7 linked regions of the Homo sapiens genome follow. The protein of the gene in region 2 interacts with the protein of the main gene of each other region in a pairwise test. Each region holds a gene or a part of one and is shown on either strand. Other genes may lie near its edges.

Region 1 (4,489 bases), on a different chromosome or scaffold from region 2:
CCTAAGGCTTAAGATGGCAAGAATGGGACTAGGCTTTGAAGCCAGGTGGCCTAAATGGCCAATGGCTGGGCCTCTTCATAAAGTGCCACAAGAGGGCGCAATTGTAACTGTGAACCTCAACATCTCGAATTTGGTGAAGATCCTATGGAAATGATGAGTGGAGGAAATTCAAGTAGAAGTCATGGGTTTGAGGAAGTATTTTGGGGAGAGGGAAATATCAAAGAATAGCACTTAGAGACGAATAAGAAAGAAAACGATCCCCTAACTCTTCATCAGTTCAATTTCCTACTCAATCGTAATAACACATTTATACACGACCTACTATGTATCAAACATAGGCGTCAGGGATGACCAAATGGACATCATTTTTAGTCACAATCTGCAGAAGGATAGATAAGTAAAAACAGACATGTGCAAGGTGACACGGTAGGTATTCTCCCAACAGGAAGCACAGAGAGCCCCGACCCAGCTTAGAGAGTGATAAGTGGAAGCTGACAGACTGAGTGGGGGCTAGCCCTGGGAAGTAAGCTTTAGGCAAATGGATCAGCACATAAGAAAAGGCCATATATTACACACACGCACACACACACACACACACACACACACACACACACACATATGACAGCAGCAGCATTTGAAAGACAAAAAGAGTTCCATAGGCAGAAGGTGGCAACAGAAAAATTGAGACTATTGAAATGAGGACCAAGATGGGTGTAGACTTGCTGGCCATGGTACTGAATGTAAATTCTATTCTGAGGTGGCAGGGTCTCAATGGGCTTTGAAGGGTTTTAATCTAGTAAGTGACACAGTCAAATCCGTTTGTGGAAAGATCAGTGCCTCCACCTGTAGCCTGTTGCCTACAGTGTTGTATAACTAAACAAGCACTGGGCTGGGAGACCAAGGAGCCCAGCTCTGATCCTAGGTCTTACCCTATCTCATTTTATCACCCAATATGGACCCATTGATCTTTCCATGGTTTACTTTCTTTCACTAAGAAAATGAAGTATTTGAACTCATTAATTCAAATTATCTACGGCTTAATACTGCTAACAGTCTGTGAAGTGCCCTATGGATTATTTTTATTTACAGAAGAAGACATTTTCTAAAGATGTTAGTCATGTGAGTTTAAGAGAGTATTTTTATACTGAGTTCCACATAAAAGAACCTTGCTAGATCTTTCCATTGAATGAAGGGTATGAATGGAGGATATCTTAAGAAGTATTTTAAAATAAGAATATTCAAAACTCTGACATTATCTATGTTCTCTCTATAAATATCAGGCCATAGTTTTCTTGCCTCAGGGAAAGCTTAAAAAACTTCAGTCAACCACCACATATATCATTTGGTTAACATAATTCGGCATTACTGTGGTGTGTGAACATTTCCTCTCCCCTAAAGGCTGTGGCAGCAGCACTGCAAGCTCTTCTATTCTCTCCCCTTCAGCTGGGCACCAGAGCTATGATCATGACCATTCATCCCATTCATCCTGTGGTCACACAGCTATTCACAGTCAATTCCCTCTCTCACAACATCTCCATCGATCTCAAAACACTTGGGGAAATCTAGGAAATGGTGTTCTTCAAAAGGCAAAGAATGGAACTGCACACTTTAAGTCTTCAAACAACCTCAGGAAACTTTTAATTGAATGACTTTGTTAAAATCACAATCTATCCAAAAATACCACCTATAATCAGCCTTACTGACATTGAGGTAACTATGTTTTCTTGAATTAACAATCGTCTCTTTGCAACATATGAAAAATACTATTAATGACAAGAAGGAAAGTCGTGTAAGTTGTAAGAAGAAAATTCAATTTGCCTTAGGTGATGGTCATTTGTAAAATATTTCTGTCATACCCACAATGAAAGCCATCAATGTTTAAAGCTTAAAACCCATACAGAGAGTTTAGAGAGGCTCCTTATTCTACATAGTTCATCCTTGCTACCACACATCTGCCACTTTGCTCTCACAACTCCCATCTTTGGGACCAAAGCCTTCATTCTGCTCCTAACTTCCATCTCCCGAGGGGCTAGAATCCTATTATGAAAACCGTTGAGCCCCAACCACAAGTACGTGCCAGAGATATAGAATTCCCCTTATTAAAATCCACCATTAAGATGTCAAAAGTACGGAGAGTATATACCATTTCTCTGTATGCTTTTAGTCTCATTTATATGTACATGGAGCCAATCTTATTTTATAGATGCTTATGCAGTTTGAATATGCATGCGCAAATGGGAATAATGAATCAATTATTTATCAAAAATATTATTGGTCTATTTATGAAGTACTGTACCATGATTAGTGAAGACATTATTACTGAAAGTAGAAATCTATTTTTGAAAATGCACTCCATAAAGATTGAACAAAGTTTTAAAATGCTCCAGGGAAAAATAAAATTAAAAGGAACTTAATATTTTCCCAGTCAATATGTCTCTTGAGATGAATATAAAGTTTGCAAAGATCTATGCAGCCCTTTAAAAAAAACCTGTTACATTTACAATTGAAACAATATTGAGTTGAAAATATGTTTATGAAGAAGTTTATACTTCAAAATCACTATTCGGTGTCTTGCTTGTTTAAGAAAAAAAAGTCTTGATGCAAAGGAAGAGATGATATGCTTTGTTTCATGCCTGAGAACCAGTGTGCTTATTTCATATGTATGTAAATTTTTTTCATTACATGATTCTTTGCTTATGAGTACTTAATCACAGCCACATTTGTTGGATGAAGAAGACATATGAAAAACTGCATGGGCTATTTCTATGCAATATTACATTTCAGGTGAGTGAAGAAAATACAATACTTTATGCTATTAACACTATATGGTGAGTTTGGATTCAATATTACCTGGTATACAGGTGATGTTAACCAATATTTGGATGATGTTGACACTGACAGTCTAACACATACAAAATGCCCAACTGTAATTTTGGTTCAATTTTCATTTGGGGTTAAAAATATTACTCACACATACATACACACGAGTTTATTTCTAGACAAAAAAGAAAATGATAATATTGATACATTGTCTAATAAAATCCACTAAAAGCAAACCCAGTAATCTCACTATCTGATTTAGACTGCAACATGGTATACCAGGTATTTCTTTCAATTTCACAATAGTGGGATACTTTTTACACTGATTGTAAATGTCTCTTAAAAAAAACACACACACACACACATTACCTCCAAAAAAATTTTTTAAAATCTCCGAGTAAAAAATTTAAGAAAGATAAGATTCAAAATTTAAAGAATGATACAGCTTATTAATTTTGAAAATAACAAAAACTAAATTAAAAGGAAAATGGGACAATGAAGTGTTATAGAAACTCTAAGTCATCTTAAAAATTTCCAGAAAACACATTAGAATCAATATTGATTAAAATATGATTATTAAATGCTAAAAGGTAACATTTTTACATTTTTTATTAATATCAGTTAAAAAACAAAATTCTACTCAATTCTTAAGCTAAAGTGTTCTTGCTGTAATTTCATTGCCATTCTCTTGTTGTTCTTCCCATAAAAATAAATGGCTGGGTCAGAAGTGAAATGACATGTGTTCCAGTGTTTTCTGTCATTCAGTAATTATGCATTACCATTATGTCCAAAGATTGCCTTCTAGTTACTTTCTTCTAGAGTTGCTCAAAATGGGCCTTGTGACTCTACAATGAGAGTTTCAAGGGATGATGTCAGAGGCCGATACTCCTTGGAGGCAGCAGGGTGAGATTAGTCACGCCTCACTTTTTTCCCCATGTCTTGGTCCTATGGACATTCTGTTCATTTCCAGTATCAGCCAGCTCATCAGACAGGCCCTCCTTTTCCTTTCTCCATTTGACTATTTAGGTTTCGTATTTATTTTGAGAGCTTTTTCCCATGAGAATGAATTGCCCAAGCAGACCCTATGTACATCAATGAGCCAACAGATGATTTTCTTTGCAACTGCAATATCAGTAAGATTAGCATTCTGTATGGTTTTAAGTCAGTGATTTACTCTGCTATGGCTTGACATAGCTCCTGCCCTTTTCTACAGATACACACAGACTCATTTCTGTAAAGATCAGTGCATAGGCATATTTGAAACCAATGTTTAGCGCTGTGCTAAATTAATCATATAGATTATTTTTAAAATCTTTATAATAACTCTAGGAGAAGGGTATCAAGAAACATATATTTGTATGGAGATAAGGGACCAATCATATTCATTAGGTTTGTTATTTTTTTTTTTTTTTAGATAGAGTCTCACTCTGTCACACAGGCTGGAGTACAATGGCATAATCTCGACTCACTGCAACCTCCACCTCCCGGGTTCAAGCGATTCTCCTGTCTCAGTCTCCTAAGTAGCTGAGATTACAGGTGGCTGTCACCTTGCCTGGCTAATTTTTTGTGTTTTTAGTAGAGATGGGGTTTCACAATGTTGCCTAGGCTGGTCTCGAACTCCTGACCTCAGGTGAACTGCCCGGCCGCGGCCTCCCAAAGTGCTGAGATT
Region 2 (4,489 bases):
TAATAAAAGTTATGTGAATGTGGTGTCTCTCTCAATAATCTTATTGTACTGCACTCACCTAGTTTTGGACTGTGATTGAGACTAAAATTGAGGATAAGGGAGCGCTACTGTATTTAAAGTGAAAAAAATTAAAATTACTCATGAAGCTTGCATATTTCTACTGCCTAGTGTTACTGTAAGCCATTAATGTCAATCCCACTTCCCTTGCCAATAAATGGTCAGAGATATAAAAGGAAAGCAATTCTCACTCATAAGAAAACAGATTCAAGAAAGAAAAATTGAGGATAAGGGAGCGCTACTGTATTTAAAGTGAAAAAAATTAAAATTACTCATGAAGCTTGCGTATTTCTACTGCCTAGTGTTACTGTAAGCCATTAATGTCAATCCCACTTCCCTTGCCAATAAATGGTCAAAGAGATATAAAAGGAAAGCAATTCTCACTCATAAGAAAACAGATTCAAGAAAGAAAGATGGGAAGATAAGATCTCTTCTTTGTCTAACAATTTTTTATCTGGACATAGTGCCTGACACTTATACAGCCACCCTGCTATGAGCCAGAGACAAGAGAATTGTTGAAAACCAGCAGGGCAGTCAAATTCTAGGCTGAAGCATCCATTTCTGTATCTCTCAGTTAAATGATATAACAGATATTCTTATTGTTTTCTTTTGTTTTGAGACAGAGACTCGCTCTGTCATCCAGGCTGGAGTGCAGTGGTGCGATCTCAGCTCACTGCAACCTCTACCTCCTGGGATCAAGTGATTCTCATGCCTTGGCTTCCTGAGTAGTTGGGATTACCTGCGCACACCACCACAGCCAGCGAATTTTTGTATTTTTAGTAGAGATGTGGTTTTGCCATGTTGGCCAGACTGGTCTCCCCTGGCCTCAACTGATCCACCCACCTAAGCCTCCCAAAGTGCTGGGATTACAGGTGTGAGCCACCACACCCAGTCCTTATTGTTTAATTCATTTTTAGTTAAGGATTTTTACTTGTAGCAAATGCATCCAGATAATATGCATATGTCTTCTATGCTTTTGATCATGCTGTTTTCAATCACCTAAAAGCTTTTCTTACTACTCTCCATCCATCTAAACCTTTCTTAAATTTAAGCACGACTTTCTTGGAAACCTAGCCACAAGGATTTTTTCCCTTCTCTGAAGTATTTCACCTATCAATGATATCTTAAAATGTCTATGTTTATAATATACTATCTTGTTCTCACATTTTCCTATATTTACATAATTTTTGTCTTTACAACAAAACTGGAAATCCCGTAAAGGACATGAGAAGTATTCTCAATACTGGGCTTAAATCCTCACTATGTATCCCCAGTAGAGGTGTATTTAGAGGTGTACGCTCATAAGCAAATGACTCAATTTCTTTGAGCTTATGTTCAGCCTACATCTATCTATAAAATGTACAGTGTAGAAAAACATTCCAGCTTACCTTATATTTCACTGAAAGCACTGTCTTAATGATAAAGTACTTCATAATATTATCTTTTTTTTTTTGGAGATGGAGTTTTGCTCTTGTTGCCCAGACTGGAGTGCAATGGCATGATCTCAGCTCACTGCAACCTCCGCCTCCCGGGTTCAAGCGATTCTCCTGTCTCAGCCTCCCGAGTAGCTGGGATTACAGGTGCCCGCCACCACACCCAGCTAATTTTTGCATTTTTAGTAGAGATGGGGCTTCGCCATGTTGGCCGGGCTGGTCTCGAATTCCTGACTTCAGGTGATCTGCCTGCTTCGGCCTCCCAAAGTGTTGGGATTACAGGCGTGAGCCACCGTGCCCGGCCATATTATCTTTTATCCTACTTAATTTCTTTGAGCTTATGTCCAGCCTACATGTATAAAATATACAGTGTAGAAAACACTCCAGCTCATCTTATATTTCATTGAAAGCAATGTCTTAATGATAAAGTACTTCACAATATTATCTTTTAGCCTACATAAAACCTATCAGGGTTTAACTAAAGTGGAAGAGCAAATAGATGACTGTTCCTTCTATAAAGAGACCTAAGAAATAAATTAATTACATTTGTTTTTCTACAGTGGTTCTGAATCAACGCCCCTAACAATTCAGGATCTAACACTGAACTCAATCCATGCTTGAACAAAATAAAAGTCAGGCTTGTAAAAAAAAACAAGGTGAATGAAGTAAAGAACTGGCTACAAATATGAAAAGTACTTCCTCTACACTGTTACCCACATGTAAATAAATATAATGGGCTCCCCCCAGCGCCATTCAATGAGTGAACAGCAAGGTATATTCCCCTTGAGTTTAAGAGTTTCCAAACTTACTAGTAGATTCATAGGGACTATGAACATTTTCCAAGTGGCACTGAAGCTGGAAGGGAGTGGAAAACTGGCGGTAACAGTGCTGGCAGATAGTGTGACCATCTACCTCACCGTTCTGCTGATCGAGTTCTACGTGGTGTTTCATATGGTTCATGAATCTGTAATAAAGCACAAAGAGAAAGTACAGAAAACATAAAAAATTGGTAGCCTTTTAGAAATATAATGGTAAAATCACAGAACAAACATTATCTGCTCCCCTCCATTCCCCAGACTTCCTGTTTGGGATATCCTTTTCTGAGCCCAGAAAGATAATGAGTTCTTGAAACTAAGAGAGTTCTGGGAAAGGAGACATACTGCTTTCCCTTACTCGATCCAGTTACCTTTTGTTTATTACCACAATATCTCCTTCTATAGTCCTAGTTATTGATTTAATGATAACCCCAGCAAGACTGCATAGTAGTTAGGTCCATTCTCCAAAGAGAAAGACTTAAAATATATAAGAAAATGTAAGTCTTCTCTTGTTCAAGGTAACTTCCAAGGCTCTTAAACACTTACCGAATATTGTTTTTTAGCCTTTTGGTACAATGTGGGCATCGGAAAGATGTGGCGACCTTAGGGAAATTTGTGAGCTGGGCTACTTTGCCACCATCCCGTCCATAGTAGAAGTCATCTACAAGCATAATGAGTTTGGTCTGGACGGCATCGCCCACGTTCTCATTTGGTTCTGGTACTTTGGTAGGCGGTGACAGAGCAGGAATAGGTGTAGAAGAGGGTGTGGAAGCAACAGGAGCTGTTTTCTCAGGGGATGGGGGCTTTGCTGCTGATGGGACACTGGGTTCTGAATCCAGGGACTTTCCTTTCTTCTGGTATTCAACCATTTCTGGGCAACAGTACTATAAAGAAAGACATCTGATCATTCTGGTTATCCTGGGGGCTAGAATGTGCTAACTCCTTAACTTCACTACCATTCCTTGTTAACGGTTTGGTTTCAGGTATTCTCATTCAGCTTTCACCCTTCAGTTTTTTTTAGCGTTTCCAAGTTTTACTCCTTTTCTAGAGTATATCCACATATGCCACCCAAGCGCTATACTTTGTATTTCTCCCTCCTGCCTGTCTTAGGTCCCTTAATCATTAGTATAACTTGGCTCTGAGCTCCCTGGCAAAGAAGAAGTTCCAACCTTTTTATCTGGACTAATACCAAAAAATGAAAAGCTAAAAAATGGAAGTAAGAGCTCCCGATTCATCCAATGACACAATTAACAAAAATGAACTGAGGCCAATATGGTTTGAGTCCTTATTATCTATAAACCTGTTCTCCTGTGTGGTTTCAAAATCTACCACACTAAGAAAGTAAGATCACATATGTTCTGATCTATTTGAGGGTCTTTAAATGTATCCCATCACATTCCAAAGTACACAGCTCTTCTAAAAACAGACCAAGAGAAACAGTAACCCTTTAAAAAGCTTCAGTCATTTTAGAGCCCCTGCTTACAAGCTTCCAATATTAATGAAGGTAAATGGCAGAAGCCACTTAAGCTGGATCACAGGTGATATCACTTACACACATGTGACCTCTCAAAGCTTCAGTAACACGAAATTGAGCATTACATCGTGGACATATTTTCCGTCCACCATCCTGGAGGTCAAATACTGGGATGGAAGAGGTCACTGAAAGAAGTGAGAAGAATTGATAAGATTAATACAATGACACTGGAAAAAGATTACTGACCTTTTGGGAAAAAGTCAAACACTCCCTGAGAAGTATATAAAAGGGTAAGCAAGCATGAGAGATCACTATGGTTTTTGTTTGTTTTTGTTTTTTTTGAGACACGGTCTCTCAGTCTGTTGCCCAGGCTGGAGTGCAGTGGCACGACCACAGCTCACTGCAGCCTTGACCTCCCTGGGCTCAAGATCACTATGTTTGAGGCTTCCTTTTACTGTTCTAACTCTAGGCCAGGGGTCAGCAAACCACAGCACACAGATCAAATCCAGCCCAGCTACCAGTTTCTGTTTGGCCCATAAGCTAAGAATAATTTGTATGTGATTTTTTTGTTAAGGTTTTTGTTTTTTTTAATCTTGCAGAACTGAAGCTATATCCAATAAAAACCTCCTCACCATTCTCCCCTCGCCTCCACCCCGGCAACCACAATTCAACTTTGTCTCTATGAATTTGACTACTCTAGGTACCTCAAG
Region 3 (4,489 bases), on a different chromosome or scaffold from region 2:
TATTGCATGCCACTGTTAACAATTTGGTAAAATTTGTTCTCCAGTGTTTGAACTAGTTAAAATAGCAGGGTAATGTTTTTCTTTTCTTGGCTCTGCATGTATTTCATAGTTTTAGTTCTCCTTTTATGAGAATGAGCTCATATGAAAACTCGAAGTCTAATTTAACAACACTGACAGACTAAAAGTGGCATTCTTCAGTCTGTCACACTGTGCTATCAGACATTACAATGAATGAAATGAGATAGGAAGGCAGGTAGAAGTTTCAGTTCATCAACAAAGAAAAACATTTGTTACTGATTATCCTTTCTTATGTTTGAATTTCATCTTTTAGGGTAAACAGGTTGACAGCATCAACTTGACTTCAAGATTCTCTTTCAAGAAATTACCATTTGAATAAGGATGTTCCATATTATGGGCATCTGGCAATGATCTACAAATACAGAACCAACTATTCAAAAAGCATGGGAAAAAGCAGATTTTTTTAATGGCTTATGCCTTTCATCTCCTTTTTTTCTTTAGTCAATTCTGGAAAAAAAACTTCCAACAATTAAAAACTTACAGTTGTTCATATTTTTTAAATTGCAAAAAAGAGAAGAAAGATCAGGCCGTAATTAAAAATCTTAATTTCCACACCTTTCTTCATTCTTTCTAAAATACTGTACCTTTTCATAATTAATTAACCTGGATTTCTCTTATCTTTTCATCTTATTAGAATCCTTCTCTCATTATTCATAGATTCCTTTCAACTTGATATCAGAATTGAGAACCCAAGGTTCAGTGTACAAGGGCACCTCGGCTGAAGGAGACTCTAGGACTCTGTTCTAAATCAATGGCCTGACCTCTGGATAGGGAGGGGTTTTGGATAATGCAGTGTGGAAGGAAGTATCTGGAAAAGACAGAAAGAAATCTTTGGATTACATTTTCAATGTGCTAGCTTTGTAAAGAGTTAAATATAGCCAGTTAGGAGTAAAAACAGAAAAGTCTTAATAACGTGTAACTTTTACTATCCTCTGCTTTCTAAAAAAAAAACTTTTCTACGATCAAGCTTTAGGATTTTGAGTTCCGTTCTCTGAAGAGTTTAATTAGGTTAAGTTTAATGAAGATGAACATTTCTGATAAAATGCTGTAATTCTCTTAATAGAATTTCATAACAAATTAAGAAATACATGTGTGGCTAGGCGCGGTGGCTCATGCCTGTAATCCCAGCACTTTGGGAGGCCGAGGCAGGTGGATCACTTGAGGTCAGGAGTTCGAGATCAGCCTGGCCAACATGGCGAAACCCCGTCTCTACTAAAAATAAAAAAAATCAGCCAGGCCTGGTGGTGTGCGCCTGTAATCCTAGCTACTCGGGAGGCTGAGGCCGGAGAATAGCTTGAACCTGGGAGGCAGAGGTTGCAGTGAGCCAAGATCATGCCACTGCACTACAGCCTAGGTGACAGAGCGAGACTCTAAGAAAAAAAAAAAAAACAAGAAGAAGAAATAAATGTGAACATTTTCCCTAAGAGATATCCAGCCTTAAAAATAACTAGTATTTTCTAATATAAGCTTCAGCAAACTTTTAGAATTGTGGGCCAAGTTTTCTCTAATGTGAGAGAAACAGGAATGTGTGATCAGCAGACAGCCTGTCATTAATTCTCCAGAGTAGAAATAAGGGTTCACACTGATTTTCCCAGCCAGTGGCAGCTCTAAAAAGGAGGGGGCAGTTGAGTAGGGTGCAACATCTACACCAAGTGCTCTCCTGGAAAATGCACCATCTCATTAGATCCAATCCCACTGCTTTGGAATTCAAACCACAAACTCCCAGACAAAGCTGTAGATACTAAAAGCAGTTCAAATTTAGTCATTTACAGTGGAAAGCAACTCCATGAGGGAACTCACCACCACATCTCCTTCCTGCGGAAGACTGTTTGCTGGCAGCCTATTTTTCTCTTCATTGTTGTGGTAAAGGGCTCCATCATTTCTCATCACCAGACTGTGCATATCTCGGCCAAGAGGAATCTGATTCAAGTTAACCTTCTGAGTTGCAACACCAATACCCCAGATTCCTAAAAATATAACAGTTTAAATGCCCTCAAAATCTGAAGACTACAACCATCGAGTTATTTTAAAAGGGAGTATAAACTTTTTAAAGGAAGTGCTGTATTAACACTAAATTGTTTTCTATTACTCTTTTTAAAAAATCTTCTTTTAGAAGTAGTTTGCACCAGCCTGGGCAACATGCCCAAACCCCGTCTCTACAAAAAATACAAAAATTAGTTGGGCATGGGAGCATGTGCCTGTAACCCCAGCTACTCAGGAGGCTGAGGTGGGAGGATTGTTGGAGCCAGGGAAGTTGAGGTTGCAGTGATCCATGATCATTCCACTGCACTCCAGCCTGAGCGACAAAGCCAGACCCTGTCTCAATAAATAAAATAAAATAAAAGTAGTTTGCAAACTATACTATGTTCTCCACAGATGTAGTACAGCCTAGGAGATAAGAGAGTGGGCCCTGGAACAGTGCAAATGAGGATTAAATCTTGACTCTGCTACATCATCTTGCGCAAATTACCTAACCTCTCTTTGTTCCCTTATCTGTGAACTGAGGATTCTAACAGTACTCACCTTGCAAGGTAATGAAAAGATACAACAAGATAATCCAAGTAAAGCACTTGAACAGTGTAAGTACTCCACAGCATGAGAAAGTAAAGCACACAGTAAGTATTCAGAAAATGCTAGCTGTCATCATCATCATTATTATTATCTCAAAAAGATTTTTTAAAAGCTACACATTGAATTTAAATGGCCTGGAGTTCAATTTCAAGCTCTCCCTTTGAAAAGTGGGAATGTACTGTCTTCAGTTTTTACATCTACAATGAGTGACAAACAATATATACCATAAGCAATATCATGGAGAGGAGAAATTAACAATAAGGTGTAAAATCATTTTCTTACCCAGTATTTTAAGCCACCACACCCAGCTAATTTTTCTTTTCTTTGTAGAGATGGGGTTGTGCTATGTTTGCCCAGGCTGGTCTCAAACTCCTGGCCTTGAGCAACCCTCCTGCCTCAGTCTCCCAAAGCGCTGGAATTACAGGTGTAAGCCACCATGCCCCATTGAAAATCATTATTTAAAACTAATTTAGAGCTAGGCACGGTGGCTTGAGCCTGTAGTTTCAGCTACTGGGAAGGCTGCGGCAGGAGTACTGCTTCAGCCTAGAAGCTCAAGGCTGCACTGAGCTATAATCATGCCACTGCACTCCAGCCTGGGTGACAGAGCAAGACCCCATCTATAAATAAATAAATAAGTAAAAATAATTTAGAAAATAAGCCCTAGGGGGAAATTTTATATCATTCAAGGCTGGCCAAGTAATAGTAAGATTCATTTACTCCACTCTCATTTTCCTATTCTCTACCCACATTACTGATGCAGTATTTCACTAGAAGTTTATTTACAATAAAGCTTGTTTTGTTTTTGTTTTTGTATTTGTTTTTTTGAGACAGAGTCTTGTACTGTTGCCCAGGCTGGAGCGCAGTGGCACGATCTCGGCTCACTGTAACCTCTTCTTCCTGGGTTCAAGCGATTCTCCTGCCTCAGCCTCCCGAGTAGCTGGGATTACAGGCGCCCACCACCACGCCTGACTAATTTTTTGTACTTTTAGTAGAAACGGGGTTTCACTATGTTGACCAGGCTGGTCTCAAATGCCTGACCTCGTGATCCACCCCCTCGGCCTCCCAAAGTGCTGGGTTACAGGCGTGAGCCACCACGCCCAGCCACTTTTTTTTTTTTTGAGACGGAGTCTCACTCTGTTGCCCAGGCTGCAGTGCAGTGGCATAATCTCAGCTCACTGCAGCCTCTGTCTTCCGGGTTCAGGCAATTCTCCTGCCTTAGCCTCCCGAGTAACTGGGACTACAGGTGCCCACCACGATGCCTGGATGATTTTTGTATCTTTAGTAGAGATGGGGTTTCGCCATGTTGGCCAGGCTGGTCTTGAACTCCTGACCTCAGGTGATCTGCCCACCTCGGCCTCCCAAAGTGTTGGGATTACAGGTGTGAGCCACTATGCCCGATCACTTTACAGTAAAGCTTTTATTTTAAAAGTTTTCCCATATACAATACAGGCACAGTTAACTAACCTATTATAATCACATAGAATTGCTTTACAGTTCAAGAAACTCCATAAATTTTAAAAAGAGAAATATAGACTGCAGACTTCTATCTGAATTCTGAATTTGATGACTGCTTCAAAACACTGAATCAGGGTATCTTAATAACTGAGTTAAGAGAAAAACTCTGGCTCATGCCTGTAATCCCAACACTTTGGGAGGCCGACGAGGGCAGATCACAAGATCAGGAGTTTGAGATCAGCCTGACCAACATGGTGAAACCTCTGTCTCTACTGAAAATATAAAAATTAGCTGGGCATGGTGGTGCATGCCTGTAATCCCAGCTACTCAAGAGGCTGAGGCAAGAGAATTGCTTGAACCCGGGAGGCGGAGGTTGCCGTGAGTC
Region 4 (4,489 bases), on a different chromosome or scaffold from region 2:
ACGTGATTCTTATAGTTGGTGGCGCTGGTGAAGCCGCGGCCACAGTGGGGCTCCGGGCAGGTGTAGGGCCTCTCGCCTGTGTGGGTGCGCACATGTACCTTGCGGATGTTAGATGTGGTGAAGGAGCGGCCACAGCCCTCAAAAGGGCACTGGAACGGGCGTTCACCTATGCAAATGGTGGGATGTGAGGAGGGGTGTGGGAAAGAGGGCCATGCTGGAGCAAGCTGGGGATGGCACTGGGCTCCAGGTCTAAGTCTGAAAGGCAAGCTGAATTCCTTTTGCCCAGGGAATGGGGTTGGAGTGGGCAGGGCCCAGCATACCAGTGTGGGTACGGACATGCTTCTGCAGGTCTCCTGAGGTCTTGAAGGCCTTGCTGCACAGCTCCTCTGGGCACTTGTATGGTTTCTCACCAGTGTGGGTACGAACGTGGCTCTTCAGTCCATAGCCTGTCCATATGTGGCAGGCAGGGGGTGAGATGAGCACCCAGTGGGGTCTCATCCTCCACCGTCCACCTCATGCACAGGCTCTCCACCTCCTTTGGCTCAAGAAGCCCATGTCTGCCTCTATCCCACCCCTGCCCTGGGCAGGGGCTGGAAAAGCCCACTCTGCCCTGCTTCCCTCTCCAGGAGCAGTTGGAGCCATACCAGAACATGAGCATGAAAAGAAACTTAGAGAACTCATGGCTAAAGGTACTAGTTTCACAGAGGGGAAAATAAGCCCAGAGAGATGCAATGGCCCACCCAATAATCCACAGCTGGTTGGCATCAGAGCTGACACAAGAGGCTGGGTCTCTCCACCAACCCTCCAGGCTCCTTCTGCTGGCCTGAACCATGCTGCCTTGCACTCCCGTAACAAGGTTTCCTCCAGAGAGAGCACCCTGCAAGTCAGAGTACTCTGACGGTAGTTTCTCCAGGAAAGCAGCCTGGTGTTGGGTTCCCTTCAGAGAGGTCCCAAACAGAACGAGAACCCTCCACCCTCAACTGGAAGCAGCCCACCAGGCAGGTTACCTGTGGCAAAGGCCTTTCCACAGCTGGGGAAGTCACATCTGTATGGACGGTCACCTGTATGAGCTCGTTCATGCACCTGTGAGGACAAGCAATCACATAATTCAGAGGAGCAAGGGTATGACCAGGGCTCTTTGGTTTTCTTTAGGACCCTGATTCTCTTCCCTCCTGTACCATTCATGTGTGTCAAGCGCTCTGTGCTGGCATTCCTGTGTACCCTCATTTCTTCCCTCCAGCAACGTGAGGGCAGGGACCAATTCCAATCAAAGCAGAAAGGTAGAATTACAGCCTGGGAGGGAAGACTGCAGAGCTGACGGCTGTCTGCCAGCAACCTTACCTTTAAGTGATGAGCGGTGGTGTAGAGACGCCCACAGCCCTTGTAGCCACAGCGGAATGCTCTGTCTCCAACTTGCTGCCCTTTTCCATTACGGGGAATCTGGCTGTCATGAAGAACCTGGGGGAAAAGTCTTGAGATCCCTATATGTATTCTCCCCAGTGAAGAAGGTGGGACACAGGGCCCTGCTGGCAGCTTAAGACCCAACAGGCAGGGTTAAACCTGTCAGGGGCCTCTGGGGCAGAAGAACATAACTAGACGGACAAGGAACAGATGCTGGGGCATGCTACAGAAGAAACAGGGTGGGCATGGGGAGTCACCACCCATCTCTGATGGGATAAAGGGAGACCTACAGGTCATAGTGGCTGTGACGGCTATTGAAGAAAGGCTATCACATAGACAGCTAGGTAAGGTGAAAAGGGAGGTTGTCTGAATGGCCATGCTTGAACTGGACCAAGTGCCAGAAACCCTCCTTCTAAGCACACACACCTAGGAGCCTGCAACTCTCAAGACCTCCATCTTCTGATGGGAGGGGTCCCCTTCCTCCTGGCACGAAACTAGTGCTTAAAAGTACATAAACAAGGGGGCTTGCTGTGGAGATGAGCTCACCTAGGTTCATCTGATAGGACTTGGGGCCCAGAGTGAGGTGGCCACGACCAGAAGCACCCAGGGGAGTGCTGCAGTTTCCACCAGAAATGTCAGCTCTAATGACAGCACCCAGCTGACAAGTCCTCCCCTTTTGTCTCCTCTTCTGGGATATTGCTAAAGCCACCCATCTCACACCAGCCTCTGGATGCAGGGAGCCCTTATTGCTCTTCTGCTTTCCTGGGCAGGGTCCTGGTGGGACTATCCCTTAGTCTTTCTTTCTAGAATGCTTCAGAATCACACTCTGGTCTTTCCAGGAGCTCCTGAAACTGAACTCTACAAGTTACAGTGAGCAGGGGACAGAGGGGTGAGGCCAAATTCATGGCAAGGTCTGTCTAGTTAGGCTCCAGCTCAGAGGCTCAAGCAGCTGAGAGCTTCACGGACACTTAAACAGCTTCTGGGTAGAGGGTAGGGTCAGAGGTGGCCTGACCTGCTTGGCGGGCTAACCCACACAGGCACTTGGATTTCATTCCATGTCTCACTAGCTCCTGGGGTAATCACGGGAATCAAGGGACATCAGGGATGGAAGTGACCTCTGAGATCATCTGGTCCCATCTCATCATATTAGGAATAAGCTGAGGTCGAGGAGAGGAGGGACTCACCCAAGTTTGGACTAGGTAGAGGTAGAGCAAGCATAGATCTCAGGGCTCATGATTTAAATAAAACCCACTTCTCTTTACATCAACATCGAGTCTCAAATTTGGTCTCTAAGATATACCTCAGGGAACCTGGGTGGGAGTGAATGTAGCCTACTGTAAAGTTTTGTGACTTTTTTTTTTTTTTTTTTTTTTAGATAGGATCTCCCTCTGTTGCCCAGGCTGGAGTGCAGTGGGACAATCTCAGCTCATTGCAGTCACCGCCTCCTGATCCTCCCACCTCCGCTTCCCAGTAGCTGGGACCACAGGTGCGCACCACCATGCCCAGCTAATTTGTTTTTGTATTTTTGTGTAGAGATGAGGTTTCGCCATGTTGCCCAGACTGGTCTCAAACTCCTGGACTCAAGCGATCCACCTGCCTCAGCCTCCCAAAGTGCTGGGATTACAGGCGTGAGCCTCTGCTCCCGGCCTGTGCTTCATTTTGAAAAGACATGAGGACTTCCTTTTTTCCTCCATCATTCAGTCACACTGGTTTCATTATAAATAAAAAACCTCCCCCATCTTCGGGTAAAACTGCTGGAAGGAAGGAACGTGCAGGAAGCCCTGGCACATCCAGCCTGAGGCTCTGTAGTCATTCCAGGAAGGGAACACCCTGGTTTGGAAAGCTCAGAGATGTCTGTACCCTTTTCCCCACATGCAGGACCATGGTTTCGGCAGAAAGAACTTGGACTGACTGGTATTTGCAGAGCCAGGACCCTTTTCCTTTCCAGCTGAGCTACTGTGTGGGCCTCATAATCCAGGAATCCCAGCTGTTCTGTTGCACATGCCCTTGTCATAGCCCACTGAGGTTAATTTTCCAAATGACTGAGTCACAGAGAAGAAATAAATACAATTACCTCAGTGGACTAGAAAGCTAATACAAGTCACTGGCAGGGCTTTCCCAGCTAGTGCAGAGGATTACTACAGCAGCCAAAGTGAAGCTGGGCCTAACTCCTCAGCATAAGGATGCCACTGTTTCTTATGGCAGCTTTCCCTCTGCAAAGACAGCGTAAACAAAAGTGAGCGTAAACAGCTGTCAGCGGCCAGGCCAGGCTGTGTTGCATGCCCTAGACAATGATGTGTGACAGGTGAGTTGGGGGAGCTGGGGTGGAGGGGCAAAGGGAATATCCCACATGGTGCCCAAGCACAGGGCTGCCCTTGTCCTCTTGAGAGGTGAAGTTCTGGCAGGGCCAAGAGGCAGTGCGCAGGCCAGGCCCGGTTGTCTAGAGTGACAGACCGTGTCACGCTGTGCGTGCTCACCTTGCTGGCATACTGCTCCAGGGCCACCACTGCGTCTGCACTGAAGCCCTCATCATCCTCTGCTGCCAGGTCCTCCAAGCCCACCTCTGTCTGTACGGCCAGGATGGTGCTCTCCGATGGCACAGCCACAGGGTGGTGAATGTAGGCAGTGGAGCCATCTTCCAGTTGGACGGCTTCCAGGGTGCTGGGGTCATAGCCTTCTGCAGGGAACACGCGGTTAGCCCTGATGCCACACAAGGGGAAGAGATACAGCTGGGACCCTAGCTTTAAGTTAATGAGAGATACATATACCAAGGAGGGTTTCAACATCCAATTTCTCATGGCCCTTCACTTTGTGATTCACTCTTGCTGGCCCTCCTTCTGCAGCTGTCTCACCTAAGGATGAGGTCTCCTATGGTACACTAAATGGGAACTCACAAGCTCCTTGAGGACCTGACAGGGGCCCATCATCATTTTGGCTTAGATGACCACAATAGCCTCCTGACCAGTCGCTCCTCACCCCCTCTAGTTCCCTCCAGGCAGCACAACATCCAGAGGGATCTTTGCGGGACACAAATGTGACCATGTCACTTAACTGCCTCAACAGTTTAAATGCTTCCCACTGGTCTCAG
Region 5 (3,329 bases), on a different chromosome or scaffold from region 2:
CGGGTTCACGCCATTCTCCTGCCTCAGCCTCCCGAGGAGCTGGGACTACAGGCGCCGGCCACCACGCCCGGCTAATTTTTTGTATTTTTAGTAGAGACGGGGTTTCACCTTGTTAGCCAGGATGGTCTCAATCTCCTGACCTCATGATCCACCCACCTCGGCCTCCCAGAGTGCTGGGATTACAGGCGTGAGCCACCGCCGGGCCGAGAGGGTGATTTCTAAGCAGAGAATTGTATCAGTTATGTGGAAACCTTTGCCAGAAATACATATACCTTGTATATTAAATCTGAGTCTCAGATTTAATCATCGAAGCGTAGCTGGGTTAAGAAACAGTCTGATCGTAAGGATGTTGTCGATTCTGACCCATGGATGACCACAAGAAAAAGATATTTATTTCTGCCTGGATAATTGAGAGTTGACTAACTTTGGAAGTCAGAATTCCCAGGAATTAGAGTAACTGCTCTGGAAAGTTAAAGTGTGAAGTTTTTTAGATAGTTTCATAAAAACAATTCTGGTTTCTTTTTGCTTGTGCTGACTTTCTTGGATTTTAATCTACCTCATCTTGTCTTTTTAGAGTTACTTCAACTTGTCACTTTAACATTGTGCTTGACTTTGGTTGTTTTCTAAGATGGAATTTTTCCTGTTCATTGACAGCTTGTTCTCTTGCCTTTTCATTCTGATCCTCATTTCATCTAACATCATCTCATATTGCTCCTCTGTCAAGAGAAATGTTTTAAAATAGTTTAAAGTCTTGTTTTATGGGAAGAAAGTGATCCTCCAATGCTATTTGTTTCTGAGGTCAGTAAGAGAAGGAGTTAAAACAAGGCAGTGGGGAAGGGAATGAATCCTGCACTGGAGGCAAAAGCTGACAAGGAAAGAGCCATTAATTAAGACAATTTCAAAGTCAACTGATTGTGATCATTAATGTCACAATAGATCAAAACCTAATTATCACAGCCTAGGTAAGAGCCATCAGTATTAATCGGAAAATCTAATAGGAAACTATTATCAAGAAATTAGGCCAAATTGAATGCAGTGAACTTTTTATCTTGGCATTCTCTATTTTTTTGTGATGTCCCCTGGCATTGGCAGGTGTGACCCTAACAGTCGATTCAAGGCCAAGTGGTCAGTTTGTCAGCCTTTTTTAAGGGATTTCTTTTTATTTTTAGGAATTCCAAACAGAGTTAACCTAAACTGTCATTGCCAAAAGATCAGTCTTAAACTTTCTTAGCACCTGTACCTGTTTAATGTGATCAGCTATCAGTGAGGAAAAAAAAAAAAATCTATTTAGGTCTTGGAATGGTTCCTGTACCTAGAGTATCCATATTGAACCTTTTTTTTTTTTTTTTTTTTTTTTTTTTGAGATGGAAACTTGCTCTTTTGCCCAGGCTGGAGTGCAGTGGCGTGATCTTGGCTCACTGCAACCTCCGCCTCCCGGGTTCAAGCAGTTCTCTGCCTCAGCCTCCTGAGCAGCTGGGATTATAGGCGCCTGCCACCATGCCCGGCTAATTTTTGTATTTTTAGTAGAGACAGGGTTCACCATCTTGGCCGTGCTGGTCTTGAACTCCTGACCTTGTGATCCGCCTGCCTCGGCCACTCAAAGTGCTGGGATTGCAGGCGTGAGCCAGCACCCGGCCACAGTATCTTTATTACAGCTCACTGCAGCCTCAATCTCCTGGGCTCAAATGATCCTCCTGCCTCAGCCTCCCAAGCAGCTGGGACTACAGGCGCACACCACGGTGTCTGGCTAATTTTATTATTTAAAAAATGTTTTGTAGAGACAGTCTCCCTGTGTTGCCCAGGCTGGTCTCCAACTCGTGAGCTCAAGTGATCCACGTGCCTCAGCCTCCCAAAGTGCTGGGATTACAAGCATAAGCCACCGCACCCGGCCCCTAGTGAACATTTTACTGTATGTGTTGATAAATCATCTTTTGAGTTTCTGTTGTATGTGGGGACTTCCTACACTGGCTGCTGTGAAGAGGTATGGAAGAAAGGAGAGGCTTTCTGCCTAGAAATTCTTTGAGAACACCTGAAAAGACAGTTTAATCATGTCACAACACTCTTAAGGCTCAAGTCAGTGTTCTGGTTTCCGGTAGCTTTAGGATTGGATTCTAAACGAGGGCTGGTGGTGAGTTTGGTGTTTGTCTCGTGTCACCCTCACCCCTCACCTCCTCAGTTTAGGATAAGAGACATAATGATTTCTACCAGAATCCAAAGTAAATCCAAAGGGGGAGAAAAGACATAACTGTTTTTTCTTCTACCTTTTTTTTGTTAAAGAGTTACATCTCTCACAGGAGGAAAGAATTCAAGAGTCTATATGATTAGTTACAGAGAATATTTTCATCCCCTCTCCCTGAATAGAAAAGCAGGGGTCACCATTTGTATCCTTACCCTTGAGGTGTTTTTGAAGATGCTGTAACTCTTGAAGTTGAGCTGAGGCAGAAAGGTTGGAAAAATGCAGCCCTCTGGGTATTGTGGGGAGGGATGTGATGTAGTAAGAGGGTGTTTTGTGGTGCTAGGATTCCCACGCCACCAACTTGCAGCTTTATAAGAGCGCTACCAAGAACCACCACTGGGGAAAAGGTTCTTATTCATTGTTTCTGTTGGAATGTGATCTTGCTTTCTGGATTTTAGGAATTCAGGTTACTCAGTATAAAACTCTGAGAAATCAGTGTGACTTAGTCCTTCACCTCCTAAGATAAAGTGAATATTTCTTTACAAAATAATTCATGTCCTTAATGTTAAAGATGTAATTTTATTTTCAAAACATCTATAACATGACTTTCAGAAGCAGTTCATTTTTCCAAGATTCCTCACATTATACTAGATAAATAATAGGCCCTCAGTTAATACCCTTCAGTTATTGAATTAATCTAGTTTGTGGAATGAGGTGTATCCTGCCAACTTCCCTCTGCTCCCAAGTACACTCTGAGAGGTAAAATGCTCTGGGAAATGGAACAAGAATCGAGTGGATGCTGACTCTGTGTGCCCACCTCCTCAACTGATTGATAATGGTTGACCTTGGGCAAGTCACTTCTTTCAATGCCTCAGTTCCCCATCTGTCAAATGGGGTTAATAATACTGACCTACCTCACAGGGGTGTTGTTGTGAGGCATTGTAAATCAAAGTTAATAGAATACTTCAGGGTCCTCTGTGGAGGATGTCTTGAGCCAGAGTTTAAGCCTGACACACAGGCTTTGGTCCTCACTGAGCTGTCTCCAAGACTGGAACTACTTAGTGACTCGGCAAATTTTCTGCCCCCCACCCCTCATCAAAGCTGCTAGTTCAGATGTTGACAGTGTTTTCATGAATGTTGGAATCTTACTAGT
Region 6 (4,489 bases), on a different chromosome or scaffold from region 2:
CAGCTACTCAGGAGGCTGAGGCAGGAGAATCGCTTGAACCTGGGAGGCGGAGGTTGTGGTGAGACAAGATCATGCCATTGCACTCCAGCCTGGGCAACAAGAGCAAAACTCCATCTCAAAAAAAGAAAAAAAAAAAAAAAGAATGCTATTCCTTTTATTTTTATCCAAGTATAGGAGGTTTAGAGATCACTCTGGCCAGGTGTGGTGACTCATGCCTGTAATCCCAGAACTTTAGGAGTCTGAGGCGGGTGGATCACTTGAGATCAGGAGTTCAAGACTAGCCTGGCCAACATGGCAAAACCCTGTCTCTAGTAAAAATACAAAAATTAGTCGGGTGTGGTGGCACACACCTGTCGTCCTGGCTACCCGGGAGGCTGAGGCACAAGAATCACTTGAACCCAGGAGGCGGAGGCTGCAGTGAGCCGAGATCACGCCACTGCACTCAAGCCTGAGCAACAGAGCGAGAGACTCTGTCTAAAAAAGAAAAAAAAAAAACAGAAGGGATCACTCTGAGGAAGGGAAGAGCCACACTACATGAAAGCAAAAGATGGAAGAAACTACACAGAAAAGGAATTACATACAGAGGAGCCCACAGATAGAGGATTCCTTAACATTTAACATAGTAAGACATTGTAGAGGTGGAGGAGGAAGAAGGAATTTACAAATCTGTCCTTTGGCTCATGATACATTGACAAAATGATTCATTTGAAATGGCTGCACAATAGTCCAGAAGCCAAAGCTGTACTAGTAAGTTGAAAAGTACGTTGAAAACTGATACTCCAACTGATTCGTTAGAAAATATACACGAGAGAAAAGCAAACCATTTAAAATTTTTTAAACAATTACAGTAAAGTCCTCAGCAGCAGAAGACTAGATATGTTAAGGCCAGCCAGTGATAGACTGAAGGAGATTAAGGGTGTGACCAAGAGAAAAGACATCAACACTACAGAATCTGAAACATGTAATAAATAATACAATGAAAAAGAACACTACAGAGCAAAAATAGCACAGTTGTAAGAAAATGAACTTATGTACACACAAGGATATCCACCTCTAAAAGTGGGAATATTTTAGAAAGGAAAAAAAAAGCCCATAATGCATGGAGGTTGACATCAAATTGAATATAAAAATGCAACTCTGAGCATAGCAAAGGACCAAATTTGGATCCAGGTTTGTAGCAAAAAGTACATCAAAAGAAAGAACATGATAGGAAGTACTGAGAACTTTTAATTCCTAGTAATAACTTATCTGGACACTTTATTGCCAATAACTATACTTTACCAGATATTTCCCAGCATGCACTATTTCCATGTTTCCATTAAGCTAGATTTCCTAAAACTGTGGCTTCTCTACTTTGATCACTTGGCATACTAAATGAAAACACTTCTCTAGCCATATTTTCAACACTGGAAGCTGTGCCTTACCTTTCTTCCTTGCTTTAACAGCTTCTTCCCACAGTCTCAGTGTTTCTACTTGCTTCCCTGGCCAGCTTGTCACATGTTGTTGTTGTTGTTGTTGCTGCTGCTGCTGCTGCTGCTGCTGCTGCTGCTGCTGCTTTTGGTTACTGGTCTCTTCACTCATGCATGCTATTACAAAGACAAACCAAAAACACTGTATCTACCTGTAAAACTGTTGCCGTTTTTTTTCAAAATTGACTTCTCATGCTTCTGTGATCTTAACCATTTAACCTGATAGCTCTTAGTAAGTGCATCTTTTTTGCTGCTGTGTCTATATTGGTCAAAATAAACAAGCACTAAAAAGTCTAGAGAACTAGCAAAAATCAATATAAAAGAGAAAAGGACTCTTTGCTATAAAAAAAAAACCATCAAAAAAAAAAAAAGCAAGTGTCTTTAAAAATGGAAGTTTGATATTATTAATATAGGACTAATCAACATTCAACAAAATTTTTTATTTGATCACAATAATGTACACTAAAAGTGAATGTTTATAGGCCGGGTGCAGTGGCTCATGCCTGTAATCCTAGCACTTTGGGAGGCCGAGGCAGGTGGACTGTCTGGGCTCAGGAGTTCGAGACCAGCCTGGGCAACACGGTGAAACGCCGTCTCTATGAAAATACAAAAAAAGTAGCAAAGGTAATCGGGCATGGCAGTGTGCACCTGTAATCCCAGTTACTTGGGAGGCTGAGGCAGGAGAATCGCTTGAACCCAGGAGGCGGAGGTTGCAGTGAGCCGAGATCGTGCCATTGCACTTCAGCCTGGGCAACAGTGTGAAGACTCCGTCTCAAAAAAAAAAAAAAAAAAAAACAAAAAAAACAGAAGTGAATGCTTATAAAGTACAACATACCAGTGTACTTACAAAGAAGTGTACTTACAAACCCAGTGTACTTACAAAGAAGTAAAAATGGATAGATTAACACACATTAAGCTTTCTTCCCCATTCTCTTGTGGCCACCTATTTTTTTGAGAATTTGATGTTTCTACTGCATAAAGTACATATATAATAGAATAAAGGATTAGGAAAATGCCTTCTTCTAGTGGTTAGGGCAATCTTAAAAGAAAAAGCCTGGGTAAATGCAAGTATTCTATCTTCAACTCTGAATTTAAGGCAAGCAAAGCATTTAAACCTTCAAGTGGATATGATATCTCATTTCTCTACAGATTTGGGTTTGAAAAGCAAGCTTATTAATACTGCTTTCACCTTAAAGGTTATTATTAGCTTATCAATGCTGTTTGCATACATGAAAGTAAAGCATAGTTCTGACATTAATATACTCTGTCCATTGTTGCCTGTTTGCACATGTTGGCAATAGGAGGAAACACGTAAGGTGAATATTAATACCTTTGATACAATATGAAAACATGCATATTTCACCCATCTGAAATATAAAAGAAAGAAAATCTGAAGCACCACCTACTTTTACTGATGCCTTGTTTACATGTATTACAGTTGATACTTTGGCTCTGCCCATGAGTCTTTAAGTGGCTGGTGATGTATGCTGCACTCAGGAGCTTCCCACAGATGTTACATGATACCTTGCCTTCATGGCGCACCATGTGTGTCCGCAGTCTGTCTTTGGTGGCAAAGGCAGCAGTGCACGTCTGCATGAGGGAGGAAAACTTTTTTTAAATATAGACTATCCTGTTCTACTCATTTTGAAGTACGTTATATTCTGTGCATTACCCTATCCACATCAGCAAGCTGACAACTAGTTGAATTTTAATTGCATATGTTACCTAGAATCATAATCATAATAAAACTCTTGATAAATTTTAGACTCTTCCATTTTGAAGGAAGAAAATACATCAACACAGAGTAGCACAAAAAATGTAAGCTTTAGGGTAAGTTAAACCTGGGTTTAAGTTGAGCTCCACAATTTACTAAATGGTGTAATGTTGAACAAGTTGGTTAACCTATCTGAAAGCTTCTTCATCTGTAAAATGGGGATAACATCTCTCACAAAATTACTGGTGGATTAAGAAAAGCCTGGTATACACAGCAGGCACTCACTCAATGACACTAGCTTCCTTCCTCCAATTAGATCTTTCTTAGCATTCAAATCATTTACTTAATAAAATCAGTCATTAACAAACTTAACTGAAAGGTGTACTAAAAGACTTCCAGCAACAAACTAAAATTACCAATGCCTAAAACAGTCATTTGATTTAGCAAAATTCTTAATGTTTTCGTTATTATAATTGATGTCAAATAAAATCATTAACTGGAATAGATTTTTAAACAACTAGAAAGTGTTCCAATTTGGTAATAACAAACAAAAATCTAGTAAGTGGTAACATTTGGGAGAAAAATTCATTATTTTCTCCTATTACAGTTAAAACAACTTCAATAATCAACCCAGAAATTAAAGCCCTTTATTCTTTTATTCATTTCAAATACACAACCACCTTTGCAAGACTGTAACTTTTTTTTCCTAACAAAAAATACTATTGCCCAAAGAAAGGGAAATATAGCTTAAAAAAAACAACACGCTTAAATTTTTAAATGATCTTGCTTTACAGAAACAGAAGCTGTCAGTTATATTTTATAAAACTAGAAGTCAAATGGGCCACATTTACTCAGGTCAGTGATTTTAAGACTATTCAAGAATGGTGAGATTCAACTGGCTCAGACCTTCTGGATAATGTGCATTAAGTGCTACACTAAGGATAAGTCATTTTAACTCTTACTTGGCATTTGAAGGGTCTTTCTGTTGAATGGACATGTTTTACATGACAGCTTAAGTGGTCAGGCCTGTGAAAAAGAGAGTTTCAACAGAAGATATAATCGAACACATAGAGAAATGCTACTTATGTGATGCTCACATGCTTGGCAGATTGGGAAGGGGTGCATTTTAGGGAAAGCTAGCAGAATTACCAACCTCCCTCCCCCGGTGCAAGTCTCCTTCCCTCTCTTACCATGAACAAAGTCTTAGGCCTCTACCTGTTAATTTTCTCTCCTAGTCAACATCAAATCATATTAGGTCTTGATTCTTTACAATTACAAAATACCCGAAGTTTTAGTCTTAACACTT
Region 7 (4,489 bases), about 16 Mb from region 2:
CGGATCACCCGAGATCAGGAGTTTGAGACCAGCCTGGCCAACATAGTGAAACCTCATCTCTACTAAAAACCAAAAATTAGCCCAGCATAGTGGCGGGCGCCTATAATCCCAGCTACTCAGGAGGCTGAGACAGGAGAATCGCTTGAACACAGGAGGTAGAGGTTGCAGTGAGCTGAAATTGTGCTGCTGCACTCCAGCCTGGGCAACAAGAGTGAAACTATGTCTCAAAAAAAAAAAAAAAAAAAAATTAGCTGGGCATGGTGGCGCATGCCTGTAATCCCAGCTACTTGGGAGGCCGAGGCAGGAGAATTGCTTGAACCTGGGAGGCGGAGGTTGCGGTGGGCCGAGATCGTGCCATTGCACTCCAGCCTGGGCAACAAGAGTGAAACTCCATCTCTTAAAATCCCAAAAAACAAAGAACAAAAAAACTCAAAAAATAACAGATGCTGGCGAGGTTGTGGAGAAAAGGGAACACTTATACACTGCTGGTGGGAATGTAAATTAGTTAAGCCATTGCGGAAAGCAGTTTGGCGATTTCTCAAAGAACTTAGAATTGCCATTTGATACAGCAATCCCATTATTGGGTATATACCCAAAAGAATATAAATTTTTCTGCCATAAAGACACATACCCATGCGTATGTTAATTGCAGCACTATTCACAATAGCAAAGACATGGAATCAACCTAAATATCCATCAACACTAGACTGGATTAAAAAAAATGTGGTGCATATACACAACGGAATACTATACAGCCATAAAACTTTCAGTACATATGTACACAAAGAAGGGAACAACAGCCACCAGGGCCTACTTGAGGGTAGAGGGTGGGAGGAGGATGAGAATCGAAAAAACTACCTATCAGGTATTATGCCTATTACCTGGGTGATGAAATTATCTGTACATCAAATCCCTATGACATGTAGTTTATCTACATAACAAACCTGAGTGTAACCCTGAACCTAATAGTTTAAAAATAAGAAAAAAAGTAATTGGGAGGTTGGGGTTAGGGCTCAGGAAACTTTTCTAATTCCTCAAGTGATTTTTTAATTTTTTTATTTTTTAGACGGAGTCTCACTCTGTCACCCAGGCTGGAGTGCAGTGGTTCAATCTTGGCTCACTGCAAGCTCTGCCTTCCCAGTTCACACCATTCTCCTGCCTCAGCCTCCTGAGTAGCTGGGACTACAGGCGCCTGCCACCACGCCTGGCTATTTTTTTTGTATTTTTAGTAGAGATGGGGTTTCACTGTGTTAGCTAGGATGGTCTCGATCTCCTGACCTCGTGATCTGCCTGCCTCGGCCTCACAAAGTGCTGGGATTACAGGCGTCAGCCACCACGCCTGGCCATTAATGACTCTTAAATAAATCAAATCTTAGGAAGCACTAAGCTATAGGATTTAAGGTCAAACTCCTGGAAACTTAATCTAAGGTTCTTTAATGATCTGGTCTCTGCTAATCTTTCTGGGTTCAAATTTCACTATTACCTGCATATGCAAACTTATTCTGCAGTTGTAAGGCACTACTTATAGTTCTCAAACACAGCTTATTGATTTTTCTTCCATGTTTCTAAGGTTTGCAAATGCTGTTCATTTTCCAAGACTGACATTCTCTCTTTTGTAAGCCTATGAATGTATTTTCCCAAATTCACTGTGAAGACTTATCTGAGCACAAAGTTACAGGGGTCTCTTTGCTTGGTTCCCATAGCATTGTGTGCATATCAAATCTAACATAATTTAGGTCTGTTTCCCTGCCACTAAATTGTGAGCCCTCTGCAAGTAAATACTGAATTACTTATCTCTGAATCTTGAATATATGCTAGAATAATTATTTCATGACAAAAGATTTTGGAATGAATGATCAAGAAGAAAAAAGGCAAAAAAACCCACTCAGAAATAATAAAGAATCATTAGTGATGCACTAATGTTCCTTGGGTTGAAGCCTTGATACTCTGACATTCTTCACCCTGATTACATTAACTGACCTTACAGACGAGTGGTTGTTTGATATATTAATTATATAACATTTACCACTCAAATGACTCAAAGATGTTTTTTATAACTCACGAAATTTGTAGTTTCTATTATAGCAGTCTTCCCTCCTTAAATTAAAAAAACAATGGTTAGAAGCACATACTTTCAACACTCAGTCTATATTCTTTGAATACACTTCCATGAAAAACAATCAAAACACTAGCAGCAACTTATCCAATTTATGTTTGGCATGTTGAATAATTTCACTTAGACTTTTGGCCAAACTCTTGGTTCTTCCTTAGTGATTAAGCAGATGAATGGCAGTTCAGGGCAACCTTCAATAATGTGGTATTTATGACAAAAAACAAAACAAAACTTTTTTTAAACGAAAGTTTATAATCAAATAAAATTTAATAAAAACATTGGTCTAATAGTTTCAGGGCCAAAATGATAGTAGTTCATGCATGTGTAACATTCAGCGAACAGCCTTGGTATACCACTAATAAGCTCTAAGGAGGAGCTCACCCTGCTGGCCCTGGGGCGTCTGTGAGATGATAAACTGCGCTGGCTGCAAATTGGTGGTTGGATGCACCAACACAAACTGTTGCAGGTTGAGATTCTGCTGTTGAAGCTGTTGCAGTTGTTGAAGATCCTGAAAAATTGGAATTAAAACATGGATTGGAGATTCTGAAATAAAAGTTCGCTTAATTATAAGGCTTCCAGCTGATGACTTCTGTCACATCCAAATAAAGAAGAGTAAATACTTCGCATGCTTTCATATTCCAAACAGGGTATGCTCTGTGTGTGCTTGACAAAGCACGTGAAGCAACCTGGAGCCTCTGCAACTGACTATTTTTGTGGACTGACATATATTGTTATGATAAGCCTAATTTTCAATGTTTCTTTAAAATTCCCTCAGAACAAATATACTTCTGTTTTTTATCATGTAAAGACCAATATGGGTTTTAAAAATCAAGTGAGAAAACAGTTTTTAAATATTTGATTGATCTTTCTCTTAAATAAAAATTGATCGTGTTATGTCTGAATTTCCATCAATAAAGGGCCTATAATGACTTATGACATTTGACAACAGCTTATCTAACTCAACTGAAAAATCAGTATTCAATTTTTTTGCCCTTTTCCACATGTTCTAAAGTATTCAATTTTTTAAAACCAAAAATAGCTATCCATATAAAAATTTAATCCCTAACAACAATAGCACCTTACATTGGCCTACTGTTTTATAATTTTCAAAGTGTTTTCATGAACGTTATCTTATTTAGACTAATGTTAATATAGGGTCTCACAGCTTAGGCACTAAAAACATTTATTTGGTGATGAGAAAGTGGCCAAAATCAAAACATTATCTTGATAAAGATTGTATAAAGACTAGTCTGATATTTATTCTCTACTCTTACAGTTAATTAGTTCTTTTTAAATGGTTAGTCAAACTCTTGCTACAAGTTAAGTCCATTTCTGAGTCTTTTCTGAGACGGATAAAGACAGCTGTCTAACAATTAGACTCATAATAACTCTTCATATATTTTACTGATATATCTACTTATACCTTTTTCCTCTTCTTGAGATTAAAGATTTTATTTATTTTCCTCCTTGGTACTATTGTGTATGCTTCTTAATTTTTTTTTTTTTTAGTGGCGCGATCTCGGCTCACTGCAAGCTCCACCTCCTGGGTTCACGCTATTCTCCTGCCTCAACCTCCCGCGTAGCTGGGATTACAGGCACCTGCCACCACACCTGGCTAATTTTTTGTATTTTTAGTAGAGATGGGGTTTCACCGTGTTAGCCAGTATGGTCTCGAACTCCTGACCTAGTGATCCGCCCGCCTCGGCCTCCCAAAGTGCTGGGATTACAGGCGTGAGCCACCGCGCCTGGCGCTTCTTAAATAAATTTTTATTATCTCTAGATACTTTGCCCTAAAATGTGAAAATTGAAACCAAACAACATTCTAATGCAATAATGTTAATCACTCCATAGCAGAGATGACTCACTGTCTCACACATGGGTGGCAACATTCACCGCAGAGCACATGAAAAAAAATCCATGTCTGCTGTAATTAGCTAATTAAAATAAATACAGTAATCCCCTGCTTCAAAAATATGCCAGCTAATTATTCAAGAATTGTCACTTAATATAAAGTCAGTTATTCAAATAATCAGCTATATGTTTACAATATCAACTACAATAAGCAAACAAACATTATTTCTAATTCAGTGGTAAGGAAGGGTACCGCTTACCTCACTGATCTAGAGCTCCTCAGGCAGTTAAGGCCCCACACTAACAATCAAAAAGTTAATCTAACATTAAATAAAACCTGCCACTTTATTCCTCACTTGCTGCCCCAGCTATTGGAGTTCCTCACTCACCTGTGCGATCTGTATGGGCTGAGACAGGGGGATCTGCGTCATGGGCGTGGCAGCAGAGGCGGAGATGGTGGCTCCAGCAGCACTGTGCTGCTGGCTGGCGGAGTGCTGCTGCACTGCAGCAGCCAGCAGCTGTGCC

What was found.
Region 1: the proteins of POGZ (region 2) and VGLL3 interact in binary tests that used the Homo sapiens proteins (3 or more experiments, as listed by UniProt).
Region 3: the proteins of POGZ (region 2) and SPRYD7 interact in binary tests that used the Homo sapiens proteins (3 or more experiments, as listed by UniProt).
Region 4: the proteins of POGZ (region 2) and ZNF76 interact in binary tests that used the Homo sapiens proteins (3 or more experiments, as listed by UniProt).
Region 5: the proteins of POGZ (region 2) and CBX5 interact in binary tests that used the Homo sapiens proteins (3 or more experiments, as listed by UniProt).
Region 6: the proteins of POGZ (region 2) and VEZF1 interact in binary tests that used the Homo sapiens proteins (3 or more experiments, as listed by UniProt).
Region 7: the proteins of POGZ (region 2) and POU2F1 interact in binary tests that used the Homo sapiens proteins (3 or more experiments, as listed by UniProt).

Annotation. Positions count from the first base shown.
Region 1 is NC_000003.12:86,969,905-86,974,393, forward strand, and holds part of VGLL3 (transcription cofactor vestigial-like protein 3), read right to left. Parts: intron 1-4,489. UniProt on the Homo sapiens protein: May act as a specific coactivator for the mammalian TEFs.
Region 2 is NC_000001.11:151,421,098-151,425,586, forward strand, and holds part of POGZ (pogo transposable element with ZNF domain), read right to left. Parts: intron 3,965-4,489; coding exon 3,858-3,964; intron 3,190-3,857; coding exon 2,852-3,189; intron 2,455-2,851; coding exon 2,300-2,454; intron 1-2,299. UniProt on the Homo sapiens protein: Plays a role in mitotic cell cycle progression and is involved in kinetochore assembly and mitotic sister chromatid cohesion.
Region 3 is NC_000013.11:49,926,041-49,930,529, forward strand, and holds part of SPRYD7 (SPRY domain-containing protein 7), read right to left. Parts: intron 2,046-4,489; coding exon 1,879-2,045; intron 1-1,878.
Region 4 is NC_000006.12:35,287,235-35,291,723, reverse strand, and holds part of ZNF76 (zinc finger protein 76), read right to left. Parts: intron 4,102-4,489; coding exon of another isoform or gene 4,079-4,101; coding exon 3,879-4,078; intron 1,472-3,878; coding exon of another isoform or gene 1,459-1,471; coding exon 1,342-1,458; intron 1,084-1,341; coding exon 1,008-1,083; intron 447-1,007; coding exon 321-446; intron 167-320; coding exon 1-166. UniProt on the Homo sapiens protein: May be involved in transcriptional regulation.
Region 5 is NC_000012.12:54,232,211-54,235,539, reverse strand, and holds part of CBX5 (chromobox protein homolog 5), read left to right. Parts: 3' UTR 1-3,329. UniProt on the Homo sapiens protein: Component of heterochromatin that recognizes and binds histone H3 tails methylated at 'Lys-9' (H3K9me), leading to epigenetic repression. In contrast, it is excluded from chromatin when 'Tyr-41' of histone H3 is phosphorylated (H3Y41ph).
Region 6 is NC_000017.11:57,977,728-57,982,216, forward strand, and holds part of VEZF1 (vascular endothelial zinc finger 1), read right to left. Parts: intron 4,210-4,489; coding exon 4,146-4,209; intron 3,078-4,145; coding exon of another isoform or gene 3,060-3,077; coding exon 2,876-3,059; intron 1,587-2,875; coding exon 1,425-1,586; intron 1-1,424. UniProt on the Homo sapiens protein: Possible transcription factor. Specifically binds to the CT/GC-rich region of the interleukin-3 promoter and mediates tax transactivation of IL-3.
Region 7 is NC_000001.11:167,374,161-167,378,649, reverse strand, and holds part of POU2F1 (POU domain, class 2, transcription factor 1), read right to left. Parts: coding exon 4,354-4,489; intron 2,622-4,353; coding exon 2,495-2,621; intron 1-2,494. UniProt on the Homo sapiens protein: Transcription factor that binds to the octamer motif (5'-ATTTGCAT-3') and activates the promoters of the genes for some small nuclear RNAs (snRNA) and of genes such as those for histone H2B and immunoglobulins.